Linked DNA regions of Homo sapiens: all the other regions are linked to region 6. Evidence: fine-mapped expression QTL. A gene starts in region 6. Each other region holds a variant in brackets. All regions are shown on one strand. Distances are from middle to middle. Region 1 has its middle 20 kb from the start of PROK2. Region 2 overlaps EIF4E3 (eukaryotic translation initiation factor 4E family member 3). Region 3 has its middle 3.7 kb from the start of PROK2. Region 4 overlaps GPR27 (G protein-coupled receptor 27). Region 5 overlaps PROK2 (prokineticin 2). Region 6 holds the start of EIF4E3 (eukaryotic translation initiation factor 4E family member 3). Region 7 has its middle 26 kb from the start of PROK2.

Region 1 (4,067 bases), 80 kb after region 6:
GCAGTTGACTCTCCAGAGCTCCCTGCAGGATCAGGTGGAGTCTGGCCTTTGGTTTGAGATCGCCACTCTGGTGGGCTTCTTCCTCTTGCTTTGCCGTGTTCCCCTACTCTTACTTTGCCCAGTGTTCCCAGGAGACCCTGCCTTCATAAATCATTTTCACAAAAATCTTTATCTCTGAGTCTGCTTCCGGGGACCAGACTATGCCTTTTTAATTCACCCAGTGCCTAGCATAGCACCTGACACATAGTGGGAGTTTGAAAACTTCTTCAAGACTGGTTGAAAAATGCATAATATTAAACCCAATTAAACAAACAGTCCTGTTGGAAAGACACTTTTGAAGCCAGTCAAATTCAGATGATTCAGTAACAATTAGTAACATAGGTTTGATTCTTTTTATTTTTTTATAAGACAGAGTCTCCCCCTGACGCCCAGGCTGGGGTGCAGTGGAGTGATCTTGGCTCATTACAATCTCCATCTCCTGGGTTCAAGCAATTCTCCTACCTCAGTCTCCTGAGTAGCTGGGATTACAGGCGTGCACCACCATGCCTGGCTAATTTTTTAATATTTTTAGTAGAGACAGGGTTTCACCATGTTGGTCAGCCTCGTCTCAAACTCCTGACCTCAATGATCCACCTGTCTTGGCCTCCCAAAGTGCTGGGATTTACAGGCGCGAGCTGCCGTGCCCAGCCTTACATAGGTTTGATTCTATCTAGCAGAACTCAAATTCAAAATAACCTGGTGAAAGTTGAATACTTAAATTTAAGGTCACAGATCACTACAATATGACAGGGACCAGGCATTTTTAGTGTGTACAATTCTTCTATCAGCTTAGGTTCCTGCTCAGAAATCTGAAAGTCTCGCCCCACTACATGCCACAAACCGTTTTTTTTCCTTTTTTTCTTTTCTTTTCTTTTTTTTTTTTTTGGAGACGCAGTTTCACTCTTGTTGCCCAGGCTAGAGTGCATTGGCATAATCTCGGCTCACTGCAACCTCCATCTCCCAGTTTCAAGCAATTCTCCTGCCTCAGCCTCCCGAGTAGCTGGGATTACAGGTGTGCAGCACCACACCTGGCTGATTTTTGTATTTTTTGTAGAGATGAGGTTTTGCCATGTTGGCCAGGCTGGTCTCGAACTCCTTACCTCAGGTGATTCACCTGCCTTGGCCTCCCAAAGTGCTGGGATTATGGGTGTGAGCCACCAAGCCCAGCCAAACCCTTATTTTTTTTAAGGAGGTTGTGCACACTGGTTCCCCAGAAGCAAAGCATCAGGTAATGTTAACTTCGGTTATTGCAAATGATGGCTGGAGGTCTGGGGAGAGGGATTGATCATACTGGGCACCTGCATCTCCTGTGCAAATCTCTCCTGGGGCCTCAATGCTTACGCAGTTTGCTCCATACACCCTTGGTTTGAGTGGACCCTCCCCTGGCTCACAGGCTGCCTTTCATTGTTCTGGGTGCTCTCAAGCAGTGATGCCACTGTGGGGCATGGTGCCTGACCCCTAGAGCAATGCCTCCTCCAGGCCCCAGAGAGCTCTCCCCTGAAAAGTCAAGGCTTGAAAGAAGGAAGCCTGCCATTGGCTGAGAACTGGAATTATTACAACCCCCAATGCTGGAGGTGGGACTTGCGGGAGGTGATTGGATCATGAGGGCGGGTTTCTCATGAATGGTTTAGTACCATCCCCCCTTGGTACAGTATAGCGAGTGAGTTCTCACAAGATCTGGTTGTTTAAAGCTGTGTGGCACCTCCCCCATTTCTCTCTTCCTCCTGGGGTGGCCATGTAACATGTGCCTGCTTCCCCTTCACATTCTGCCATGATTGTACATTT[C/T]CTGAGGCCACCCCAAAAGCAGAAGCCAGTATGCTTCCTGTAAAGCCTGAGGAATCATGAACCAATTAAACCTCTTTTCTTTATAAATTACCCAGTCTCAGGTATTTCTTTATAGTAGTGCAAGAACAGACTAATACACCCATTCTTGACTTTGGAGTTAGATTAGACTTCTGAAGTTCAAATCTCGACTCTGCTACATTCAAGCTGTGTAACTTTGGGCAATTCACTCAATCCCTCTCAGCCACAGTTTCCTATTTCTCGAATGTAGTTTCCATGAGGGACTGGGTCTTGGTCTTTTCCTGCTGTTGCTATATTCCCAGTGACAAGACAGTGCCTGAAGTATGGTAGGGGCTTCATAAGTATTTTCTGAGGAAATAAATAAGGGTATTTGTGAAGGCTGATGGAAATGATGGGTAGTATCTGGCACAAAGCAATCACTTAATAGTATCTGAGTGACTATCTGGCACAAAGCCAGATCTGGCACAAAGCAATCACTCAATAAATGCTAGCTATAAATATATAAAATATACATATGAAGATGTAATTTTATTTTATTTCTTATATCTGGTAACATAGTTTCTAACCACAATGTAATGTGTTAGAATTCATCCTCTCTCATGCCTGTAATCCCAGCACTTTGTGAAGCTGAGGCGGAAGGACTGTTTGAGCCCAGAAGTCGGAGACTGCAGTAAGCTGTCATCATGCCACAGCACTCTTGCCTGGGCAACAGAGTGAGATCCTTTTTCTAAAAACTAACAAAACAAAACAATTATTTCCAAAAATTTAAAACTTAAAAAAAATTAAAAATTGAGAAGTTTTTTAAAATATGAAAAAAGAGGCATCTCCATATTTTCTGAGAGCAATAGTACATTGGTGAACACTGATTGCCCCGCATCCATTCACTTGTGTCTTTCTTCCTAACACAACTCCGATTCTGACCAAGTATAGCTTAGAAGAATGTGACCCGAGACTCTAGAAGTAAATCTTTTTTTTTTTTTTTGAGACAGAGTTTCACTCTGTCGCCAGGCTGGAGTGCAGCGGCACAATCTCGGCTCACTGCAACCTCTGCCTCCCCGGTTCAAGCAATTCTCCTGCCTCAGCCTCCCAAGTAGCTGGGACTATAGGCACCCACCACCATGCCCGGCTAATTTTTTGTATTTTTAGTGAGACGGGGTTTCACCATGTTGGCCAGGATGGTCTCGATGTCCTGACCTCGTGATCTGCCCACCTCGGCCTCCCAAAGTGCTGAGATTACAGGCGTGAGCCACCGCGCCAGGCCAGGAGTGAATCTTAAGGAGGCTATTGGCATGTGCCATTCCCCCATCACCTGCCTGCATGACTCATTGGTCCTGTGACTAGGACTGGTTCAATCAAAATGAAGGAAACATTTATATTACACACTTGGAGATGTGGTTTTTCCATTTTTGACCAGGTAGTTGAGAACAAAGAAGTATGTAGCTCCAGTTGCCACTGACAACTGTCTTGTTATTATGAGGCACTTGGAAATGAGGCTTACAACATCATGAGAAAGACGGAGAGAGTCAGTTATCTGACGACATCTTTCAGCTACTGATGGTGCCACTCCTTCCAGTTAGGTAAGATAATACATTTCCTTACTGTCTTATTTTTTATTTATTTATTTTTGAGACAAGGTCTTGCTCTGTTGCCCAGGCTGGAGTGCAGTCGTGTGATCTGGGCTCACTGCAGCCTTGACCTCCCAGGATCAAGTGATCCTCCCACCTTAGCCTCCTGAGTAGCTGGGACTACAGACGTGTGCCACCACGTCTGGCTAATTTTTGAAGTGTTTTATAGAGATGGGGTTTCACCATGTTGCCCATGCTGGTCTCAAACTCCTGGCCTCAAGCAACCCTCCCTCCTCGGCCTCCAAAAGTGCTGGGATTATAGGCATGAGCCACTGAGCCCAGCCATTTCATTATTATTATTATTATTATTATTATTATTATTATTATTATTATTATTAAGACAGGGTCTCATTTTGTTGCCTAGGCTAGAGTGTAGTGGCAGCAAGAGGGCTCACTGAAGCCTCAACCTCCCAGGCTGAAATAAGCCTCCTGTCTCAGCCCCTCATGTAGCTGGGACTACAGGCATGCGCCACTACACCTGGCTAATTTTTGTACTTTTTTAACAGATAGGATTTCACTATGTTGCCTAGGCTGGTCTCCAACTCCTGAATTGAAGCCACCCACCTGCCTCGGTCTCCCAAAGTACTGTGATTATAGGCT
Region 2 (4,067 bases), 42 kb before region 6:
AACCCCAGCACCACTTCTGTCTCTGAGAGGGAGAGGGAGAGAAGGAGGAGCTGTTTACAAACAGGATGTCTGATTACGGAGTTACACCAGTGGCCAGATTGGATCAGATATTTAATGCTTGATTAGGGTGGCTAGTGGGCAGGTTAAGGCTGGCAGATTCTGAGTACTCTCCATTTAAGGACGCCTGCACCGGGATACAACTTGCCGACTTCAATACCCAGCTCTGTGGCTGGCTAGCCCTACGTCTTTAACAAGGGACAAGTTCGGCCAAGGCTCAGTTGGTGGATTGTATATTATGTCTATAGGACCCAATTATACCTAAAGTTTCTAAGCTATAAAGTCTTGTGACTGTGTGCATGGTGTAGACATGGGCTAAACTCAAGAAGAGGGGTGAGAAAGAGTCATCTTAATCTTTAATTTAAAGTTTATTAGAGTTGTGGTTTCCTTTTCATGTTTTTGCTTCATAAAGTGTACCACGAATCTAACAGCAATATTATATTAAATGTACATGTTTGCAGTAAATTACACCCTCATTTAAGAAATGTGGAAAAGTTGGGGGGAAAGAGGAAATCTTAAAACTGAGTTAAGTCAGCAGTTCAGCAAGTGCTTACGAAAGACAGTCAAAATATAGGCAAGTTACTTTAAATGGGTATTATTTGTCCTTACTTTCCCAATGTAGGCAAGTGCCTGTGATATAACAATTTAGGGAATAATGGGAGAATAAAAAGCATATTAGTTTCAATCAGATTTCCTGGCATATATCACAGACCCTAAGGAATTACAAAGACAAAAAAGCAAGCTCTTTGGTTTCTGCATGGTTCTTTGCAGACTACAAGGCTGCCCCTGCAAGCACTTGGATGAAAAGACCGGGATTCTACTGGAAGTTTGCACTTTCCCCACATCAGCCAAGATGGGTAAACTGCCTTAACACAAAAGTCACATGCCCCACAAAATATTTCCTTCTATCTCAAAACAGTATTAGCTTCTTTAATCTAAGAAGGTAATGAGAGGTTTTTAAACTGATTAAATCAGCTTAGTTCATACAAAGTCTATTATGATTAAATATTCAATTAAAACAATTTCCAAACCAAAATCTGACAAAATCCTCTCTGAAAGTAATTTAGATGATAGGTTTTTAACATTAGGCAAATTAAATCCTTCTCACAGTTGGTATTTTCTAAAGGGTCAGAAACAGTTGCAGAAGTTCACTGGGGCAAAAATCTACTTTGTGTGCTAGTCATGTTCCATGATCATAAACAGAAACTAGAAATATTAACGTGAGCCTAACATTCCTATTTATTTTTACTTCAAAGGCTACATACATGCAAAAGTTGAACATGTCATCACAAATGCTTTAAATAAAGTTCAAAAAATAAAAATACTTCAAAATCCATTTACTTATGGAAATATACATGACAATTAGAGTGAAGTCAATTATATCCTTTTTTCAATCAGAAAAATACTTATATTATAAAAAAGTTTTAATTCATGTCCAGAATAATTTTTTAAAATTCTTGAGTCATAATTTTAAAACAAGTTGAATGTTAGTACAATGTTTGGAGAAACAAGTCCTAGGCTTTTGCTAACTGGATCTGATATTCTTATACTTCATTTTGAAATCACTAAGGAAACTCAAGTTTAGGGAAAAAAAAAAAGCATTTTAAGAAACCTATGATGGTAAGTATTATGGCTGAGGTGGTTACTAACCAAGTGAAGGGCACAACTTCCATAAGCAGATAATGTTCAAAGTCCTTTAAAATGTTTGAATGGAGAATTTTATCTACAAACACATAGTGGAGGCTTAAAGTAGCCTCAAGTCTCTCTGCTGGTCAACACTGCAAGAGGAATTAAAAATCCCAGGTACAGTGAAGTTCTGAGTGCACTGCCCTTTTGAAAAATGTGTGAGCAGGCACTAGCTCCCGTGACTCCAAAGCCGACTGGGGGAAGTGTCTTCAGATGGCCCTGCCCTTTATCAGGCAAAAGCAGCCAAAGGCTTGGCAAAGTCAGGAGAGGGAAATCAGCGTATTCTGAGCTAGTCTCCATGGTCCAGAGGATGACCATTTCCTTCTAATAAAACCA[A/G]TATTTCTTTGGTAGCATAATACAATATATATCAACAATCCCAATAATTCATATGAGCAGAATGCACTCAAAGTTCAACTTTGTAAATGTTCACATGCATCCTGGAAATGAGATTTAACTTCCTGCACCTACATGAAAAAGGGTGGGGACAGCTGCCCAGGCTGGAGGACTACTGATGATGAGAAATGACACACAATGTGAGCAGGGAAAGGGATCATTTAACAAAATGTGTTAGCGTTGACTGGGAAAGAAAGCCCTAAGTGGGTAAACACACCCGAACTTTGCAAGGAGCTTAATTCAAACAATTAAAATATCACCTTCTCTTTAAATCAGAAACATCAGGTTTCCTATTGGAAGAAATCCCTTGCTACCACTCTAAGCCTTTGGTTGAAAAGGCCAAATTAAAATTCGGGTTAGAAATGTTTCCACAGAGGGTCCAAAGACTTAGAGCTTGATTTATATCCTGATACTGAATTGTGATTATAGTTTTCATGTTATGCAATCCAACTATTATTTTCCTTTTATCACTAAAAAAAAATGTTTTAAAAAGGAAAATTAAAGATTTGTGTGCTGTCAGTGCAAAATCACATTAAGTATGGTTTTTCTTTTCCCTGGGACAGAAAAAAACAATGCCCAGCTCACAGTACATAGGAATGTGTCACAACAAATAATCAGAAGACAGATTTCTCCAAGCTAGTGTTCCTCCTTGTACAGTGTGGTATTCAAAAGCAGTATTGTCACGATTATGCATATTCTCATTAACTAGGTACAGCAGAGCTACTTAAAGGGAAACCCATTTCTTGTGCCTCAATGAAAGGGGAGTGTAGAAAACAATAATTAGGCTGAATAAGGAATTTTAAACGGCAAAAAAAAAAAAAAATCAGAGTGAAAAGAACAGAGAATTTAGAAAGCCAAAAAAAAAGTTTTTTGTGTGTGTTTTTTTTAAAAAGCAAGTAATGTGACGGTAGAAACCCACACAATCTCCCCCCACCCCACCTGCCACTTTGAGTCCTAATTGCCCATCTGCAAGGACAGAAACCCACTCTAAATTGACCAGCATCGGCTTCGGCAAGTCTTCTCTTCACTCTCCCTCCTGTTAAGACCGTTTCCAAAACCAATCAGCAAAGGACAAAGAATTCTTTACAGAGTGCAATTAGTGTTTTCCACGTCCACCTTCAAAAGCATGATGCTCTTCATGGGCTAAAGGACAGAAAAAAAACAAAAAAGAAAAAAAGGAAAGAAAACTTTAAGCAAAGGATGGGCCAACCCTCCTCTAGGCATCTCATTCAGCTTCCCCAAATGTTGGCAAGAACTCAAACACCTTATTTATTTATTTATTTTTTTGCCAGTAACTGTTAGCTAAGGCGTGCATTTCCTGAGAAACGTAATAATGAAAATTAAAACAAGGAATAAACAAGCAATGGGCATGCTGCCTGTTTCTTCTTGCTGTGCCTGGGAGGATGAGTCATCTCAGCAAGCCGATGAAGAGAGTATGTTGGGCTGCAAGCAAATGCCGCAGGGGAAAATGTGCCCCACAAAATGCATTGCAGGGGGTGGGGAGAGGGGGTGCCTGACACAACCCAAGACAGAGCCGCTTACAAGCCTATCTTTAAAAATAAACTAAAAATAAAACAAAACAAAGAACCACACCAGGGTGACAGCAATTATATCTAGGTGCCCCTGCTCCCTACCTCTCAACACTCTCCATGGGAAATGAAGTTTCATAAAATTGCTAAGTTTTATTTTTCCAAATCAAGTTTCCCCCTGCCAATAGATATTCAGACCTATCATCTGGCTTGCAAAATTACTAATTTTAATTAGGAACTCTAGAATATATATATATTTTTTTGAGACGTAGTTTTGCTCTGTAGCCCAGGCTGGAGTGCAGTGGCGCAATCTTGGCTCACTGCAACCTCCTCTGCCTCCCAGGTTCAAGCAATTCTCCAGCCTCAGCCTCTGGAGTAGCTGGGATACAGGCGTGTGCCACC
Region 3 (4,067 bases), 64 kb after region 6:
GTAAAAACCAGTCAACATGGATTTTAACATTCCTATGACTTTCTTTTAATGGTCTATTTCATATTCGCTACTATTGAATGCCAGCTTGGGTATTCCCTGCTTCTTCAAGCATAGAAAATATGATATGTCTACACAGGAAAAATCAGATTTCAAAAGTGGCTGGCTTCTTACACAGCTGTTTGGAAAACAGTCCTCATAAGGCTGTTTTGAAACAAGTTTAAAAAAAAGAAATAAGTTTGGAAACACTTAAAAATAGGGTTGTTTAGTTTCATGTTCTTTTGGAAATTTTAATTGCTTTAATGCTTTAGGAGAGAAATGAAGGCTCTTGATATGTCATCTTTGTATCTGAGGCCAAGTTTGAAAAATGAAGTCTGACTTCAATTGTTATAAAGGGAAAAATGAAAAAAAAAAAGAGTTTGGATTAGTCCATTAAAAAAGGTAGTTGGGACAACTTAGCAACAATGACATAGAAATGAAACAGTAGTTTATTGATTCTTTTCTATTACTGTAACCTGTTGATATTGCCACATGATCACTTCTGCCCAGGCATAACTGTATTAGGTGAAATGAGCCTTGTGTGTGTAAAGTGTAGCCTACCATATTCCAGCAGACCATCAAGGCTCAGCTTAAACGAAAATGCAATCTAGGAGCGTCTATAGAACCCAATGTTTGTGAGACAGGCTGATCAGGATTGGAATCCTGTGTGACCACTGGGCAAGTTACACAACCTTTTGAAGCCTCTGTTTCCGGTCTTGTAAAATGGTTATAAAATACCAACCTCATGGGGTACAACCCCTATGGAATTTAATAATACCTGCAAAATGCTTATCACAGTGCCTGGAACAGACTGGGAGCTCTGTTAGGGTTACCTCTTATTAAGCCTTATTATTTGGTCTCCCCTGACAATTTCAGCCAATGCTGATATAAGTCTTTTCTGTCCTGCCCACTATATTAGATTGTACACTTTTCATGATTAGGATCCTTGTGTCTAATTTTCTATGCATCCCTCTTGGCACACAGCACGATAATAGGCATATGGCAGGCATTCAGTAAGTGACCAGCAACAGGAATATGTCCCATGAAGGACAGTCCAGAGACAGTTACGAGAAGATCATATACAGTACAGACTCATGTCATGTATATGAATCCGTTAAAGGTAGTCACCAAAAAGCAAGAGAGATGGAAGCTTTACCTGGTGCAGATGATTCAGCCTGTCTCTTTACTTGGGGGCCACGTGACTGAAATGAAGTGAGCTGGGAGACACAGGCCTGTCTCACGGCAGTCAATTTGGGACTCAGGCTGACTGATAAGGCTCCATTTCAACATGTGCTTCATGATTGCCAGTGTAGTGGCCTATACTGTGACCCCTAGCAAGTTATTTTCAAGGCCTAAGCCCTGGTACCTGTGGACGTGACCTTATTTGGAAATAGGGTTTTTGCAGACGTAATCAACTTAAGATGAGGTCATGCTATATTAGGGTGGGTTCTAAATTCAATGGCTGGTGTCTTCATAAGAGAAATGGGAGGGAGAGCTGGATACAGAGACACAGGCTAGACTCCCCCCACCCCACCCCCCCCACACACACGGGAGAACATCAAGTGAAGATGGGGGCAGAGATTGGAGCAATGCTTCTACAAGGCAAGGAACACCAAGGATTGCCAGCAGCCATCAGGATCTGAAAGAGCAAGGAAGGATTCTTCCCCAGATCCTTCACAGGGAGCACGGCCTTGTCAGCCCCTTGGTTTTGGACTTTTAGCCTCCAGAACCACGAAAGAATAAGTTTCTATTGTTTTAAGCCACCCAGTTGTGGTGATTTCATTATGGCAGACACAGGAAACTAACATAGTTGGGTGCAGCCAGAGGGTTGTACACCAGCTTTCTCTGCCTGGAATTCATGCCTGTCACTTTTGCTCACTTTTTAGTGACCAAAACAAGCCACATGACAATCT[G/C]TCTTCAAGGGGACAGACAGTGCAAGTCTGTCACTGGTTTCTGAAGACAACAAGGTATCAGGTGAGCAGTGCTATATTCTACAGGAAATGAATCATTCATGGCTTGGACTCCTTAATGAGCATAATGAACTTTGAATTATATTAGTAATTGCTATTATAAATAATAATGTGTAATTTCCTTTGTATTTTTTCTAGTACAGCATTCTTTATACCAGAATTATACAAAGACTCTGAAAGTGAGTAAATGTGTAAGCTAATATTTTCTTTTAGGTGGGTAGAAAACCATAATTTATTCATTCAACAGGTATTAACTAAGACTTACTATATTCCAGATATTGTGTGCAGCATTGGGGGTACGAGGGTGAGCAAAACAGACATGAACCCAGCCCCCTGGGAGCTTACCATCTCATGGGAAGATGCACATGAATCAAATAATCATACAACTTTATAATTACAGAAGATAAATTTAGGGTCACTATGAGAGAGCATATGAGGAAACCTGAAGCTTTCCTTACAGTTCTGGAATATGGGATGAGAGCTGAAGGTTATGCAGAATTTAACTGAGGTGAAGAATGAAACAGGGCTGGGTGCAGTGGCTCATGCCTGTAATCCCAACACTTTGGAACGCCGAGAGAGGAGGATCGCTTGAACCCAAGAGTTCCAGACCAGCCTGGACAAAACAGGGAGACCCTGTCTCTACAAAAAAATTTAAAAAATTAGCCGGGAGTGGTGACGGGCGACTGTAATCCCAGCTACCTGAAGAATCAAGGTGGGAGGATCACTTGAGCCTGGGAGGTCAAGGCTTCAGTGAGCTGTTATTGTACCACTGCACTCCAGCCTGGGTGATGGCGAGACCCTGTCTTAAAAAAAAAAAAAAAAAAAAAAAAAAAAAAAAGAATAAAACAGCAGACATGGAGGATGGCTGGGCATTCCAGACAGTGCAGACAAAAGGGTAGCTAATGTGGCCCAAGGAATGTGCCTAAAGCGAAGTCTGGAACAAATACGGAGCCAGAGGGATGGCAGGGATCCTTTGCAGGGTCTTATGTAGGCCACACTAAAGATCTTGGTCTTCATGGTTGGTCGGGGAAGGAGAAAAATCATAAGAATGGGGCAAGTGTGACATGAGCAGCTTTCATAAGGAAGACCTCCCTGCAGTGTGACTCAACCTGTCCACATCCCAACACCTTCTGGCAACCCCCAAACCCCTTTCACTGAAGGCAACTCTATCCTTCCAAAGATGACCCTGGAGTCATCTTTGACCCTTCTCATTCTCTCACACCTAAGACCCATCTGTCTGAAAATCTTGTTGCCTTTTGAAGGCAAATCTACTTTATATTATTATATTATATTATATTATATTATATTATTATTTATTATAATATAATTATATTTGTGATAATGTAATATTTTATATATAAATAAATACAAAATAAAATAAAACAGAATATATTTTAATAATAAACCCTCTGTCATGCTACCCTTCTTGTTCTGAGCCCCTGTCACCTCCAGCCTGGATTACTGTCACTGTCATTGCCTCAAGACTGGCCTCCCGGGTTCACCCTTGCCCTCTACATTCTATCATCAACACCTATTTTTTTTTAAAGTAAGTTAGACTCTTTGCTCTAAACCCTGCAGTAGTTTCTCGTTTCTCTCGCAGAGACCTTCAGATCTTTGACTTTGTTTACTACTCCTACCTCTTGTCTTCCTGCCAGCTCTGCTCCTGCCACACTGCCCCCCTGGAGGTTTCTAGAACACTCAGGGCATGCTCCCACTTTGGGAAATTTGTCCTGGATCTTCTCCTTGTCAGACTGCTCTTTCCCCAAATAGCCACATGGCAGACTCCCTTGTCACTTTCGAATGTTTGTTCAAATCTCACCTTTGCAAGGAGGCCTATCCTAACCACCCTTATTTACATTTGCAACTGCCCCAGCATGCCAGTTGCCTTTTAGTCCTTTTATATTTCACTTTTCCCTAGCACTAAGACCTTCTAGCATATTCTATTACATATTACGTTTTATCTTTGTTGCCTTACTGCCCCCACCTCCCCACACATACACCAGAATCTAAGCGCCACAGGATAAGGGATGTTCAGAAACTTTGTTCTGTTCACTAATTTAT
Region 4 (4,067 bases), 31 kb after region 6:
GGCCACGCTCAGCCTGCTGCTGTGCGTGAGCCTAGCGGGCAACGTGCTGTTCGCGCTGCTGATCGTGCGGGAGCGCAGCCTGCACCGCGCCCCGTACTACCTGCTGCTCGACCTGTGCCTGGCCGACGGGCTGCGCGCGCTCGCCTGCCTCCCGGCCGTCATGCTGGCGGCGCGGCGTGCGGCGGCCGCGGCGGGGGCGCCGCCGGGCGCGCTGGGCTGCAAGCTGCTCGCCTTCCTGGCCGCGCTCTTCTGCTTCCACGCCGCCTTCCTGCTGCTGGGCGTGGGCGTCACCCGCTACCTGGCCATCGCGCACCACCGCTTCTATGCAGAGCGCCTGGCCGGCTGGCCGTGCGCCGCCATGCTGGTGTGCGCCGCCTGGGCGCTGGCGCTGGCCGCGGCCTTCCCGCCAGTGCTGGACGGCGGTGGCGACGACGAGGACGCGCCGTGCGCCCTGGAGCAGCGGCCCGACGGCGCCCCCGGCGCGCTGGGCTTCCTGCTGCTGCTGGCCGTGGTGGTGGGCGCCACGCACCTCGTCTACCTCCGCCTGCTCTTCTTCATCCACGACCGCCGCAAGATGCGGCCCGCGCGCCTGGTGCCCGCCGTCAGCCACGACTGGACCTTCCACGGCCCGGGCGCCACCGGCCAGGCGGCCGCCAACTGGACGGCGGGCTTCGGCCGCGGGCCCACGCCGCCCGCGCTTGTGGGCATCCGGCCCGCAGGGCCGGGCCGCGGCGCGCGCCGCCTCCTCGTGCTGGAAGAATTCAAGACGGAGAAGAGGCTGTGCAAGATGTTCTACGCCGTCACGCTGCTCTTCCTGCTCCTCTGGGGGCCCTACGTCGTGGCCAGCTACCTGCGGGTCCTGGTGCGGCCCGGCGCCGTCCCCCAGGCCTACCTGACGGCCTCCGTGTGGCTGACCTTCGCGCAGGCCGGCATCAACCCCGTCGTGTGCTTCCTCTTCAACAGGGAGCTGAGGGACTGCTTCAGGGCCCAGTTCCCCTGCTGCCAGAGCCCCCGGACCACCCAGGCGACCCATCCCTGCGACCTGAAAGGCATTGGTTTATGAGGGAGGCCCCGCCACATAGACCCCCAACCCAGCCTTTCCCTTTGGCTCGGACGGTGACGTTGTATCTTTTCCTTCTGGCCCCTGTTTAATTTTCTAAGCTGCCTTCAAAATGACTCGAAGTGGACAGACACTTGGATTGTACTGACTCCTTTGGGGGTGGGGTGGGTGAGGAGTAGGATGCTCAGCCCACTCCAGCTCCGCACATTCGTCCTCCTAACTCGACTTTCTTCCTGACAATAGGCCCTGCAGTCTTTTTGTAGCGGTACTGACGTCTTTTATTCCATGTGTGGTTCCTTTTTTTCTTTTTCTATAAAGGCTGTACTAATTTTCTTCATGCAACGTTTCCTAAAGACCATGGCCAGTTTTCTACAGAAGCTATTTTTGACAACCTCAAGTGGCATTACATTTTGCAGTGAAGTAGAGGAACCTAGGGGGACTTCTTCACAAGTTAGATTTCTTGAGGATCTTCTGTTGGAAGCAGGAGAAAGTGGGGGGTGGGGGGAAGTTGTCCGAAATGCCCTCTGAATTGCCGGCTGCAGGGTCCTTGTGCTGCGCTGGTTCTTTGAAAGTCTCAGTGTTGATATTGAACTTAAAGAGCAGAGATGGAGATCAGTAGCAAGGCAGTCATTTTTTTAAAGCAGTAAGTAACAAGTAAGATTTGGTTCCCGGTTTACTTTCTGCTGCTAAAAACCACGTCAGTGACAACTGCTCTCTGTATTATAGCAATCTTGAATGGAAACATTTCTGTCAAGTTGTAAGTTTTAAAAGAGTAAAGTGTTTTGGTTAGTAATGATGTGGAGAAAAATACAGTATTGCATGTGTTCGTGTGTATAGATTGTGGTTCGAGGATTGGGAGGGCTCTGAGAAGCAGAGTACTACATCAAAATTGTTTTAAGTATTTTTTGCCAATAAAAA[A/G]TTAATTTTATGGAAATGGCTTGTGCTTTGAGAAGCCCAGTTTTATTCTGTCTTATGAAACTAATTTCCACTTTGAAAATTGTTCTTCTGTTGTTTATGGTATAAATGAATGGAATATAATGATATCCTCCTTCTAGGAAACAAAGCATTTCCTTAAAATGTTTGCTAGGTTAAGCTGTGCTGTTCTACTGATGGTTGTTTTAAATTAATAATGAGAACTATAATTTAAATAATATTTCTTTGTTAGACATTATAATGTTAAACTGAAAGACTAAATTCTGCAAGTACTATATAATATTTTTGGCTTATAATGCTACATTTTTATTAATGTACCTTCCGTTTTGAGGATTTATATCTGTATTTCTCTTTGCATTATACAAATATACCAGTATTTTCATTCTGGAGTGGTTGTTTTGTTGTGGTGGTGGTGGTGTTTGAGGCTGTAATAATACATGCGTCGAAGTATGTTACATGCCTCTAAGTATGTTATGTAAGGATAACATGCTCTATGATCCTTTTAGCACGTGTTCTTCAGTTACAGGTTTCATAGTTTGACCATCAGCATATCCAAGAAAAGTGGAGGCTTAATTTAAAATGCAAGATAAAATCTGCGAAACTTTTCTTTAAAGGGAAGAAGCAGTAGACATATATACGGCTTTAAAACTGTTTTTTTATTTGGATGACAACATTTCAATGACTATTCGTTAAATGACATAAAAAAGCTTTTAAGTAAACATATCAAACTCAAGTACAAGCGATCATTTTGATAAAAGTACTAGGTAAAAGTGGGGGTGGTAGATTATATTGAAATTTAGCTGAGTATAATATAAACTATTAAATGTTCAGTCCAATGGGAATAAGTTATAAAAAGAGTGTGGCCAATTTAATTGATCTCTGGTAAATAGGCTGCATGATTTTATTTTGTTGTGGAAGTTAATCAGTCTGTGAAGACAGTCTCACACTTGGAAAATATGAGACAGTTACCCTATTTCTCCCCACATCATGAATCCAGGTTGGCCTCAATCATCCAAGGGCCACTGATCGGAAACCTCAGCCAACCCCAAGATAGAGGAGCCCAGAAGTACCTCTCTCCTCATCTAACCCTCCACCTGCCCAAGTGATCTCAGTTCCAAATAGAGGTCGAACCAGTCTACGATGGCTCATGCCTGTAACCCCAGAACTTTGGGAGGCCGAGGCAGGAGAATTGCTTGAGACCAGGAGTTTGAGGCCAGCCTAAGCAACATAGCGAGACCATGTCTCTACAAAAAATCAAAAAATTAGCTGGGTGTGGTAATGTGCACCTGTGGTCACAGCTACTGGGGAGGCTGAGGTGAGAGGATGGCTTAAGCCCATGAGGTCAAGGCTGCAGTGAGCCATGACTGTGCCATGGCACTGTAGCCTGGATGACAGAGCTCTCGAGACCCTGTCTCAAAAAAGCCCCCAAAACAGAGATCACCAAGTCTCTGTGATTTTCCCACCTGGCATGGCACAGGAACCAGCCCATCATGGCTGACTCCTGAGCCACTCCAGCTTTGGGCAGCAGCTCAGCTGCACCAGAGGTGACGTGTTGGCCTGACATAGCCTTGAATTCAAGGGATATTTTGTCATATGAGAATTCATAAGCCAGAGGTTCTCAAATTCTAACATTCATACAAATTAAGTGTCTGTGTGATCCAGAGTCTTATGAGGACATGTTGAGTTGGGTCCTGGGGAAAAGCATTTCAACAGGTTCCTCAGGTGGTTGGAGACAGACCTCCAGGACTTCGTTCAGACATGATTTACTTCAGACATGATGCGTTCAAACTTGGCTACCTGGGTTTTTTATTTTTATGTTTTAAAGTTCTGATTAGATGGGGGAAGGCAAGATTTCTAGTGAGTGTGCAGGTGAGAGTAGCAAGAAATAACAGCCAACTAAAGGAAACGAGAACCAAAAGAGCCAGAGAAACAAGCTATGTAGCAGAAAGTGGGGAGGTGCAAAGGGCCACCCCAACAGCTTTTAGGATTGGTGAATCTATTAACATGTACTTTGATAGTTAATTACATTAATCAAAAATTATAAAAAAAAAAAAAAGGTTAGTTGTGTCCACAG
Region 5 (4,066 bases), 53 kb after region 6:
GCAATGCCCCACAGAGTCTAGGAACTCCCCGAAGGGCAGAAGATGACCAACTCAGATCCCAAGGCTCCCCTCACTGCCCTGCCCAGCTCCGAGCAGGCAAAACGTAACTCACACCACCAAACTCAGAGATGGACTCACCATGAAGCCCAAGAGGCCGAAGCCCCTCTCATGTATAGGCCTCTAATCCAGGACCTAGGAGGGACCCTGGTAGTGTGTTCACAAGGTCATCTGTTTTTGTGAAACTTAAAAAAAATCTTTGTATTATTTCTTTAAATCAAGGACACCAAGACTGTATGAACATCAATCTGGATCTGCCTTGACTGACCCTAACATAATGATTACACTGAACTGCAGGGTCCTTAATACTTAGGTGCTTTTTTCTCATTCAAACCCAGTTCACTCAGTTCTGTGAGCTCCTAACGACAAAAACCATGATTCCTTTTCTCTTTCTTTTCTCTCTTCTTTTCTTTTTTTCTTTTCGCTTTTCATTTTTTTTTTTTTTTTTTTTTTTTTTGAGACAGAGTCTTGCTCTGTTGTTGTGCCCAGACTGGAGTGCAATGGCATGATCTCAGCTCACTGTAGCCTCAGCCTCCCAGGTTCAAGTGATGCTCCCACCTCAGCCTTCCACGTAGCTGGGACTACAGGCATGTGCCACCATGCCCAGCTAATTTTTGTATTTTTAGTCGAGACAGGGTTTTGCCATGTTGCCCAGGCTGGTCTTGAACTCCTGGCCTCGAGTGATCTGCCCATCTTGGCCTCCCAAAGTGTTGGGATTACAGACGTGAGTCACTGTGCCTGGCCAAAAACCATGATTTCTGATATTATACACTCGGTAGATGCTTGTCCGTTTCTTGACTGGCCCACTCACTTCTAGATCTACAGATACTGTGTGACAAAGCTAACAGGCGTCTCATAATCACAAATGCAAGAGAAAGTGCTTACAGAAGATGCACACTGGAACCACTTAGTCCAAACTTCATGGTTTACTTTAGAATCAACCAACACTTAATGCAAAGTTTCCAATAGCCTAGAATTCCAAACAGCAAATTCTAGAAGTTACCGAGGCAGAACATCCAGCACTTTGAGAAAGCATGACTTTTACTCTTTTGCAGCACTTTTAAAGAGAAATTAGCACTTATAAAAGGGCAACATGAGGGATCCTTATAGTGATGGAAATGTTTTGTGTCTTAACTGTATCAACGTCAATATCCTGCTTGGAATATTGTACTATAGTTTTGCAAGATGTCACCATTGGGAGAAACTGGGCAAAGCGCATATAGTACCAAAGTTGAGAAACCTGTATTAGACTAAAGCCTATTTCTGTCTTGTAAGTCTTTTTGCTGAACTGAACCTATAAACACTGCTATGATGCTATCCCAAGAAATAATCATAGACAGTAGCTCTTGACATTGTGATAGGAAAGATGAGAAAATCAGCATATTATGCTTTCTTCCCCATCTTTTGCTAAATTTCTAGTTGCATTAGTTATATTTTAGTATTTTAAAATTTTTTTACTTTAAAAAATATGTAAAAATTTTAATGACTTCATATTCTGAAATTATGTTTACAATGTTTCCTCATAGGTTGGTTCTAAAGTAGAAACCACTAATAATTTTTTAAATATCAAGTTAAAAAAATAAAACAAGTACCAGGTTTTTATTTGAATTTTTTTCCTTCAGAAAAGGAAG[G/A]AAAGTGAAGTTTTTAAAAAAACCTGGTGCTAAAAATGTTCACATAAAAAGCGCAGGAAAATTTAAAAACAAGATTGTTTGAAGGAAACATAGTTGTTTAAACTGAAAAAATTCAGAATACAATAAGCAATAAAGATTAAAGTATTAATCACATAATTATTGAATACTAAAAAGTGTTCAAAGCTTTCAAAGCTAAACATTAGTCAAAATGGGAAGGAAATGGCTAATCTTCTATGTAAACTTTGGAAAGTTACCGGCATTAATAGAAACCTTGTTGTTTTGTCTTTTTTTTTTTTTAAACAGAAAGTTTCTTCTAAAGGCATGATTCAGTTAAGTCATTCTTAAGTGTTAAAAAATTGTGAAAAATGTGCCTGTAATCCCAACACTTTGGGAGGCCGAGGCAGGCAGATCACGAGGTCAGGAGATCAAGACCATCCTGGCTAACAAGGTGAAACCCCGTCTCTACGAAAAATACCAAAAACATTAGCCGGGCGTGGTTGTGGGCGCCTGTAGTCCCAGCTACTTGAGAGGCTGAGGCAGGAGAATGGCGTGAACCCGGGAGGCGGAGCTTGCAGTGAGCCGAGATCACACCACTGCACTCCAGCCTGGGTGACAAAGCGAGACTCTGTCTCAAAAAAATAAATAAATAAAATAAAATAAAATAAAATAAAAAATTTGAGAAAAATGAATACCTGTTAAAACTATTATTTGCTTTAAAATGTATTTAGAAAATATGCATACTATGCTTCCTAGGTGAACTCATATATCTCACATATTTTATTCTATCTTAAAATTATCAAACATAAAGTTCAAAACTATACAATTATAAAACAATAGCCTGTCAGGGACTGTAAACTGTACAAGTTAATTGGTACATGTTAAATAAAACAGCAAACTGAACTCGGTAGCTATAAACTCCTATCTATGGTTCTCAGTTTCAGTCATCAAATACTGTTCACTTGACCCAAATAAACGGATTTTCGGTGGCTAATGACTAAGCTGAAACAAAATGAAAAAAAAAATTCTATATAGGGTCTACATTTTTACTATCTACTAATGAGTCATTAAACTTCAGAGCATAATTGAATACTGTACATAATGTTCATCAGTATGTATTGAGGAAAGACTTTTTTCTTGAGTTGTTTTGAACAGACCATACAGCTGAGAGATATTCTGGAAGAAACTAGATCTTTTTCTACAATAGGTAAATTTCATCTGGAACAAGTACAACTCTAGGATCTTCTCTTAAAATAGGTCATCAAAATAACCTTTGAAAATGTATTTGAAGATAAAAAAGCAACCAATATGAAAAGTTAGAAAATAAAATTCCAGAAATACATTTCAAGTGAACATCTGAAAACCATACTCTATTATTTAAAGATTTCATTATTGGATCCATGATAAAAACAGAACCAAAGAGATGTAGCCAGGCTTATGCAAGAAGACTGCATTTGTTTACTTTCAAAATTAATCTTGGACTAAACCTGAAATTGAAGTTATCTAGGAACTAGGGAAATAGAATTCGGTTCTCTTTTAAATATTGCAGAGGATTGGAACACTCATCAAAACTATCGGACGACACAAATTCCCATTCTGAACTGTTATCACTCATTCCAGTGATCATTTTGTCTCTGTTATCCAAACAAACCAGTTTTGGTTAATTGGACTACAAAGTGTTCAAATTAAACCCAACGACTGCTTTCGCGGAGGCAGAAGCGTGTAATGATTAAGACCACATAAACAACAGAGTGTCACAAAGAATGAAGTTGAGTGTCTCTTGTTTACTCACAGCCTGTGTTGCTGAACCCCTCTGGGGCTTAATGTTGTATACAGGCTTGCTGTATTAAGTAAGAAGTACATATACAACATTTAATATAGAGGATCTGGTACATCACAGTATTTAACAAGGTGCAATTATGATTGTTATTAACACAAACATAGTTCCATGGGATATGTCACTTTTCCCTTGTTTCAGTAAACAGGCTATGTGATTCTAGCATCTAGGGCATGTGAAGCTGTACTAATACTGCATGAAAACAACACAATTTTTCTTTTTCCAGACAGAGTCTTGCTCTGTCACCCAGGCTGGAGTATAGTGGCAAGATCACGCTCACTGCAGCCTGAAACTCCTGGATTCTACTGATCCCCTCCCCCACCTCAGCCTTCCTGGTAATTAGGACTACAGGTGTGTGCCACCATGCCCAGCTAATTTTTAAAAATTTTTCTATAGAGACGGGGTCTCACTATGTTGCCCAGGCTGGTCTCAAATTCCTGGGCTCAAGCAAACTGCCTGCCTCAGACTCCCAAATTGCTGGGATTACAGTGTGAGCCACTATGCCCAGCCAAAAACAACGTAATTCTTAAAGGAGAAAGTTAAG
Region 6 (4,067 bases):
GACATTGGCTATGCTGCAGGTAAGGCTGCCTTGGAGGGCTCTCCTGAGAACCTCACCAGTCTCTAGAATGTTGTTTACCTGGGGAGAAAAGTTACTAATGAACTTCTAGATCATAATGTGTTCATAACCTCAAGGGGGAGAGGGGCACCCTATATAAAGGTAATGGATTCCCACAGAAGGAGAAAAAGTTCAATAAAAATTATGAGTTGTTTGATCGGGCAAAATGAATTCATATGTACAATATTGGAACTCATTATAATTTCTAAATTAATACAGCCATTTCTATTAAAGATCTGGACACTGTGGCAATAATGTATTTCATTTGATGATCGACCTTTAGAGAACAAAAATGTGTAAATCAATAGTATAGATATAGTTTTTGTCTTCATTAAAGTTACTATAATCTTAAGCTACTAGTCTTAAAAGATTGTGTTATCTGTAGTATTGACATTTTAGACCAGTCCTTAAAAGTGTTGTTCCTACATGTAAACTAATTTTAGACCTGTTTAAAAAGAAACTCTCTTGATACTGTTTCCACCAGTCAGCAGTATTCACAATTTAGACCACAGGTCCAGGTTTAACACCTTGAAAACAGATACCAGGTAACAATAGCACAGTTGCAGCACACCTATGAAAACAGACACGATTTCATTCTGCTAAGGTCTGCCAAAAGCACGCTTGTTATGACAGTATAATGCTCTCTTAGCATCCCATAATGAAAGTGAAAATGTTTTGAAAGAACGAAACTCACTCCATCTCCCCCACCCCCAACTTTTTTGGGTCTCCGGCAAAGAAAATGGCAGCAAGTGACAATTCTTATAGACGGGTGCTATAAGAACCCAAAAGGAAAAAAGAAATGAGCTTGTCTTAACCAAAAAAAAAATGAATATCACTTTTTTAAAACAAAATCTTGCAGTCATTTTATGCAAAGCCTTTTAAAACCAGATTTGTGTGTACCAAGCAAACTTCTCAGAACACTGTCACACATTTCTTCCTAACACTTAGCCAGAATAGACACGGTTTCATCAAAATTTCCAAATGCTCTTGGGACAACCTTGAGGTGTCATCATTGGGCACCCACTGCAGGGCAGACACTAAGAAGGGGCTTTGCATTCATCCATCTATTCATTCATAACAATTTCTGGTGTTCTTACTAGGGACCAGGCACAGTTCTAGGTCCAAAATGTCCAAAAACAAAAATCCACTGCTCTTTTATCCTTAACTGAGGGGAGGTGTTGAGGAGCTGGGGAGACAGACTGAAAGTAAACAAATTCATATATAATAAAATCCAGCTGCATTAAGCATTAGGAAGAAAAAGAAGGCAGGGCAGGAGAATACAAAACGAGGGAGCAAGGTTTCTATTTTAGATACGGTAGTCAGGGGGTCTTTCTGAAAAGATGGCACCTGGGTTGTCCCTTGAGAAAGCCATAATTCACCCCCTTCCTGACAAGGTCAGCTGCTGCTCATTATTGAATCTCCAGCGCATAGCAGGTGTGTGGCTCCACTGTAGGTGTTCAGGAAATACCTGCCCAGTGGATGAGGAAGAACTGGAAGAGGAGTCCACGGCAGCAGCGGCCGGACACGGGGTGGGAGCGCCCGCCGTGCAATAATCATTGCACCACCGCACACCTCCCAAGGGATGGGCAACTTTTCCGAGCGCTGTCACAGCTGAGGTCGTGTCCTGAGCTCCCAGGCGCCCCGCGGGGTAAGCAGGACAGCCCTCTCCCTGCAGCAGGGACGCGGCCACCCCCAGCTCGCCTACCCTCTCCCACGGCCCTGCCAGCACGCCGCGTTCCGATCGGAAGGGAACAAGGGGTAGAAAGTGTTGCCGAAACTTTTCGGGCTGCGCTGTCCTCCCCCGGCCCGGAGGCGAGGACGCCGAACAGCCGCCCGGCGCGGCCCGAAGCTGGCTTCCGACCCGGCGGGGCGAGTCCCGGGGTGCGCAGGCGGACGCGCGGAGGGGCCGAGGTCTGTGCCACAGCGGAGCGGGGCCGGGGCGAGGGGCCGCGCCGAGACAAAGCGGCGGTGGCGGCAGGACCCGGGTCGGGGCCGTGCGCGGCGGGCCCCGCGCCCCCTCACCTGTCGAGCCAGAAGGTCCAGGACGAGTGCAGCGGGACCCCGCCCGGCTCAGGCTGCAGCGCCGACAGCTGCTGCAGGCCGAGCGGCGGCTCGGGGGCGGCGGCAGCGGCGGCGGCGCGGGACCCCGGCGGCTCCCGGGCCCCGGCGGGGGGCGCGGCGGCCGGGGGCAGCGCCATTTTCTCCGCCCCGCCTGCAAGGCCGGCGGACGCGCGGACCGCGGGGCGAGCGCGGCTGAGTCACCCCCGGCCCCCGCCCCGCCCCGCCCCGCGCGCCCCGCCCCGCCCCGGGCTAGCCGCCCGCCGCCCGCCGCCCGCCGCCCGCCGCCTTCAGGGCCTGGGAGCCGCGCGGAGGGGCCGTGGGAGGCACGGCCGGGCCGGGGCCGCCGAACAAAGACAGACCCACGGAGGGATGGGGGGCCGATCCCGCTCAGGCGCGGGCCCAGCGTGGGAGACTGACGGCCTGGCCTGGAGTGGCGGCCGGGGACGGGCTAGAGGGCCCACGGGGGTGAGAGGGACCGGGGAACGGTCTGCGGGCTGGCTCTGCAGCCATGCAAAAGGGCAGCGGGATGGAGCGGCAGGCTAGGGACAGATGGAGGGATGGATGGGACAGGGGATGGAGCCCCAGACCCACGTGGTGCGAGGGAAGGAGGGATGGACAGACATACCAGCAGTCAGAAGGATGGAGTGAAGGCTGGCAGATGGCTGGAGGAGAGAAGGAGGGATGGAGGGCAGATGGAAGCACAGTTGGGTGTGACAGATAAATGGAGAGGGGAACCGATGGCCAAATGGATAAAGAGACTCCAGTGCCCGCGAGTACAGAACAAAGGGCGAGAAAGAAGAACGAACAAGAGAACCACCGACTGGGGCATGAGGTTGGAGCAGGTGGGCTTTGCATTCCTCTTGGTGAGAGCATACTTCCTAACTCCGCTGATTTGAAGGGGCCAGAGCCCCCATCCCAACCTCTGGAGCTACCATGTGACCACAGTGAAGGCCTCAAGCCTGGCTTAACGTGTGGCTAACTTCAGAGAACATTTCCCAAAATCAGCCAAAGTATCCAGATCTGCCCTAAAGCACCGGCGAGTCGGGAGGAGGAAAGCGGGCACCTGTGAACACAGAGCGCTCTGCTTCCTGTACCTCTGAGCACCCAGGAAGTCCCTTAGGCGGTGAGATTCCTGAGCCCAAAGTAGGAGGGGCCCTCCTAACACAGCATCTCCCCAGGTCTCTGTCACTTTCTTTTTCAAAAGAAAAGCAAAGGCATGAGGCCTGTGAACACACATGTCACAACCAGCATGGACATCCTCTTTACACTTGAATTTCTAGATAGTTCCTCTCTGGCTTTGAACAGTGAAGGGCGTGGGATGCCATCTCCTCATTGACCTTCTACCTGGCCTAGCATGTGTTCTGTTCATGCCTTGAGCATTCGCTGGGATGGAAGAGCTACAAAACAAGATGAGTTCAGGGGCATCAACAGCATCATAGCAGACTGTCATGAATCCCAGAGTAGATGCCCTCCCTAAAAGGTAATCAAGGTCACATAAAGTGACAATAATAAAAACAAGACCGCTGCTTTAAACTTAACTTCTATACAACATACAATGCTGGAAGCAATGACAGATTTTATAAAATCTGTCCAACACTAAAACAGGGGAGGGTGCTTTTGGTTAGATGCATTTATCTTGTTGCTTAATATCTCCTTTCATTTTTCCAAGAAGCGTGGTATATGGCATTGTTTAAACTGCTCTGAGCACTTTACCCGTAATAACTCATTTAATCCTTACAATAAGCCAATGAGGAAGATACTATTAACCCATTTTACAGATGAGGAACAGAGATAAGATTAAGATAACCCCAAGGTCACAGAGCTAGTAAGTGGGACAGCTGGGATTTGAACATAGGTATTCAGACTCCAGAGTCTAGACTTTCAACTGCCAGACTCTCCTACCTCTCTACACAGAACACTAACAAGTCCACAACGTAAAAACAAGCTGT
Region 7 (4,067 bases), 86 kb after region 6:
TATTTAGGGAGCATCCATGGGGAGTTAATTTCCCCACACTTCTGGGTTGCAGCATCTGGTGCTTGGAGGCTGCCCAGGAAGCCAGATGTCATGCTCCATCATGCGACATTTCATCCCATTCTGGAAGTGGAGGGATGACTCAAAGCAGAGGTTGGTGTGTAGACTCAACCGGCCCACGGCTTCAACTTGGGCCCCAGGCAGCTTGGGATGTTCATCCATGGCCAAGCTGAGCTTCTTCAGAAATGAAGAAATTGAAAGAATCTGCAATGGTACATAGGTTAATGTCCGATAGTCTTTTTCCCTGAGAGAAGCTATAAAGAACATCAAGCCTAGGACAGCCCCAATCAGATGAAGAGCTCAGACGGTTCATCCTGGCTGCAGGGTGGAGATGGATTGAAATTAGCAAATCTGAAAGTGTGTCTGTCACCCTGTGGCCTGGTCTAAGGGAGTAAGAATGAGGATGAAGCCAGGTGGATAGATCTAAGCAATATTAAGGAAGTCAGTTTCACTGTATTTTGTAATTAAGAAGATGAGAAGCGTGAGGGAGAGGATGGCACCTGCTTTCTGGCTTAGGCAGCTGAGGAGTAGATGGTGGTGCCACTTTCTGTGATGGGGAATGGTTGAGTGGGGTGCGTGGAGACTAAGTGGGATGCTGAGCTCAGTGTTGAACTAATTGAATGTCAGAAGCCCAAGGCACATCCAAGGAGAAGTGTCCTAAGGCAGTTGGTGGCACTAGTCTGGAGTTTGGGAGCAATGCCTCAGCTGGAGACAGTTTTTGAGTCACTGGAGTATATGTGGGTAATGCAGCAGGCATGAGGGATGCATAAGATGCCTGAAGGCGAATATTTTAAAAAGAAGAGAAAAGGGTAGAGGACCCAGCCCTCCTGGGCTCCTCAGTGTGAATGCATAATTAGTACACTACCAGATGAAGGGAAGATTCCAGAAGATGCAGAGAAAGCACGGCCAGAGGTGACCCCAGGGCAGGAGCAATATTTTGGTGAGTGAGCAACAGTGAGAGATGTGCAAAGGAGTCAACTTAGGAAAAGCGTGAGAGATGTTCAATGAACTTAGACATGAGGAGGTCTTTGGTTTCCTCAGGAAGGGCAGCATCAGTAGCGTGGTGGAATTTGGGGTGAGTGGAAGCAAAATGTAGATAAACCATTAATCTTTTATGTAGGGATTACTTATAATTCAAAGCAGTTACTGTAATTCAGAATGATACAAAGGTAAATAAATTATAGAGCAAGTAAGCATTCCAGTAGGTTTTAACCCCTTATCCTGCTTTACATTTCTGCATAGCGTATTTGACAACTTGAAGTGATTGTATTTGTGCCACTGGTTGCTGTCTGCCTCTCCTATAGAAGGAAGAACCAATCCCAGCACTTTGGGAGGCTGAGGTAGGTGGATCACAAGGCCAAGAGATCAAGACCATCCTGGCCAAAATGGTGAAACCTTGTCTCTACTAAAAATACAAAAATTAGCTGGGCGTAGTGGTGCGGGCCTGTAGTCTCAGCTATCCAGGAGGCTGAGGCAGGAGAATCGCTTGAACCTGGGAGGCGGAGGTTGCAGTGAGCCGAGATCGCACCACTGCACTCTGGCCTGGCAACAGAGCAAGACTCCATCTTAAAAAAAAAAAAAAAAAAAGGAAGAGAAGCATGAAGGCTGCAGCTTTGTCTTGTTCACTCCTGCAGCCGCAGTGCTTGGCCCAAAGTGGCCAAAATGTTGGTTGAATAAATGATAGAGAGAATCTGATGAAAATACATAAATTAAAAAAGAAATC[A/G]TAATTTGAGCTATATATGTACAGGCTATTTACAAAATAATTATAGATAAATGTTCAAATGAAAAAGAGGAAGCTGTGAAGATGACTGTAGGACATCTCTTGTTTTCAGCCTCCCAGATCTTCTGGTAATTTAAGTGGAAATTGATAATACTAAAAGATTGTCATGAATTTCAAAAAGGCTTTTCTAATCTACAACTCCCCTGTAGACTTTTATAAAGAGATTTCTGTATAAAGATTTTGACTTTTATAAAGAGATTTTTGTTACCAATTAGATGCTAGACTGGAAAGTAATCAACTTAGGGAAAAATATATAAATATAAATGTGTATGTGTGTATTTTTTTTCATGATTTTAATCAACTAAGAGAAGTAGAGTTTTTACACTAATTTTGAAGGTTGCATATTTAGAATCTTGCATTTTATTAAAGGCAATATCATAATACTTAACATCTATGCCAGAGACCTGCTTGGTTATATTATATGAAGAGAGGCATGCTTTTTATGGAATCATTTCTAAGGAAGTGGACATTGAAATGACAATTCCAAGAAAAATGCTTTCCTTTGTCTAATTTGTTTTTACCCCTTCTTTACAGGTTTTTTATGTTACCATGCTTTAGCAGAAGTCAATTAATCATATATTTTAAATAAAATGTTTCATAATTTACCAAGACCAATTCTGTCAGTAGCACAGTATGCTAGATGTGTATTCAATTTAGATGATGGTGAATCCTGATCTCTAAACCCTGTGGTTTCAGTGATAAGGATGGAGTGTGCAAACATGGAACATGGAACATCTTCTTAAAAAGTTAAGGGACAGTCTTCTTCATGATTTCAGTGGAAGTTAAGATGGAAAGGGTACCACTTAAAGTATCTTAACAGTGGAAGGAGAAAAGCAAAATTCACAGCATCAGAAACGTTCAGGGAAATTCATTTGTCCTTGAATAAGTTTCACAAATATAGATGTGAAATGGTTAAGAAGCAACATTCCAGTTTTGGGTAAGTTAGGCTGCAGAAACAAATATAACCCCAAGTCTTAATGGCTTTCAACCACAGAAGTTTATTTTTAGTTCTTATTATATGCCTGAACTGGCTTTAGAATTTCACCTCAGTATGACAGAGTAGATTTCTAAGAGCCTGGCCTGTTCGCAGGCAACAGCTCTGAACTCCAAACAAAATACTCTGGAGAGCGAGCAAAACCAGGCAGATTTTGGGAGGGAGTCAAAACAGGGAAGAGGGATTATCAGAGGGTGAGTTTCCCATTTTCATGACTTCAGTCTGAGATTGGGCTGCAGACAGCATGGATGGGCAAAACCCACGAGAACATCTGCTCTTTTTGGCCTGAAGAACCAAAGGTTCTGGGGCAACCGCTGCTGCTGGAAAGTGACGAGAGAATCCCAGAGATGAGAGCCAGGGCAGAGGAGCCTCAAAAGCCTTCTGTGCATAAATATTGCCCCAATTCCTGACACCTGAATGATCTGCGCATGGGGCAGACTCAAAGCAGCTTGTAGGTCAGGCTTAGAGAACAGAATTGAGATCTGAGCTGCGGCCCTCCATACACAAGAGAGAACTCCTAGTTTGAGCCTGTCTAAGTTAATTGCCTGCTAAAACAAAACCATCAACATTCTTTGTAAGAATGTAACAGAATCAAGAGTTTCTACAACATAACCACAAAGAAGGCAGGGGAGGAAAAACAGGAACAAAAGATGGCAGGGTGGAGGGGCAGGGACAGAAAACATACCAAATAATATCACTAACTGAAATCATATGGATATTTACCTCAGATATTAATATTGCTTCTATCACAGCAGAGGGAGAAGAGCAGCAAGGAAAGAGGATGATGGCCCTTAAGGCCTCTGTTGATAAGTAACAGCAATCGTTTTCACTAGCATTTCCTCAAGTCCCAGGTCTGGGCCTGACTTGCAGTCATGGGGCAGGAAATGATAATCGATTCACAGGGATAATCGATTCACAGTGAAACTGCCATCATCTGGTAGATTGTATCATTATTCAAAAATAAATTATTTATTCAAAAATTATTTATTCAAAATTTATTCAAAAATAATTATTCAAAAATTATTTATTTTTGAATAATAATACAATCTATGTACAATAAAAAAGAAATAATTTTTGAATAAATAATACAATCTACCAGACGATGGCAGTTTCACTATTAGGAAAGAGTAAGTACTTATAGAGTCAATGACTTCTGCATAATGAGAAAATTTTTAGAGAGTATTTGCTCTCCTGACAAAATCCAGTGTTATCTATGTAACCACAGCCAGCTCAGCA

What was found.
Region 1: its variant is fine-mapped to the expression of EIF4E3 in whole blood (TOPMed, PIP above 0.99).
Region 2: its variant is fine-mapped to the expression of EIF4E3 in whole blood (TOPMed, PIP 0.98).
Region 3: its variant is fine-mapped to the expression of EIF4E3 in whole blood (TOPMed, PIP above 0.99).
Region 4: its variant is fine-mapped to the expression of EIF4E3 in whole blood (TOPMed, PIP above 0.99).
Region 5: its variant is fine-mapped to the expression of EIF4E3 in prefrontal cortex (BrainSeq, PIP 0.95).
Region 7: its variant is fine-mapped to the expression of EIF4E3 in whole blood (TOPMed, PIP above 0.99).

The regions. Positions count from the first base shown.
Region 1 is chr3:71,803,612-71,807,678 of GRCh38, forward strand. No RefSeq gene overlaps it. Among named protein-coding and RNA genes, the nearest start is that of PROK2, 20 kb to the left of the region's middle. The variant C/T (reference allele first, on the strand shown) is at 1,825.
Region 2 is chr3:71,681,450-71,685,516 of GRCh38, forward strand. EIF4E3 (eukaryotic translation initiation factor 4E family member 3) reads right to left here. Exons shown (of 7, transcript NM_001134651.2): 7 at 1-3,279. The coding sequence ends at 3,233. Among named protein-coding and RNA genes, the nearest start is that of EIF4E3, 42 kb to the right of the region's middle. The variant A/G (reference allele first, on the strand shown) is at 2,080.
Region 3 is chr3:71,786,782-71,790,848 of GRCh38, forward strand. No RefSeq gene overlaps it. Among named protein-coding and RNA genes, the nearest start is that of PROK2, 3.7 kb to the left of the region's middle. The variant G/C (reference allele first, on the strand shown) is at 1,950.
Region 4 is chr3:71,754,115-71,758,181 of GRCh38, forward strand. It overlaps GPR27 (G protein-coupled receptor 27), which reads left to right. Exons shown (of 1, transcript NM_018971.3): 1 at 1-2,382. The coding sequence ends at 1,063. It also overlaps a transcript of EIF4E3 not described here. Among named protein-coding and RNA genes, the nearest start is that of GPR27, 2.3 kb to the left of the region's middle. The variant A/G (reference allele first, on the strand shown) is at 1,979.
Region 5 is chr3:71,775,877-71,779,942 of GRCh38, forward strand. The region is part of intron 2 of PROK2 (prokineticin 2); the gene reads right to left. Among named protein-coding and RNA genes, the nearest start is that of PROK2, 7.2 kb to the right of the region's middle. The variant G/A (reference allele first, on the strand shown) is at 1,689.
Region 6 is chr3:71,723,113-71,727,179 of GRCh38, forward strand. It overlaps EIF4E3 (eukaryotic translation initiation factor 4E family member 3), which reads right to left and starts at 2,290. Exons shown (of 7, transcript NM_001134651.2): 1 at 2,080-2,290. The coding sequence starts at 2,255. RefSeq lists silencers at 1,695-1,814, 1,945-2,014.
Region 7 is chr3:71,809,427-71,813,493 of GRCh38, forward strand. No RefSeq gene overlaps it. Among named protein-coding and RNA genes, the nearest start is that of PROK2, 26 kb to the left of the region's middle. The variant A/G (reference allele first, on the strand shown) is at 1,781.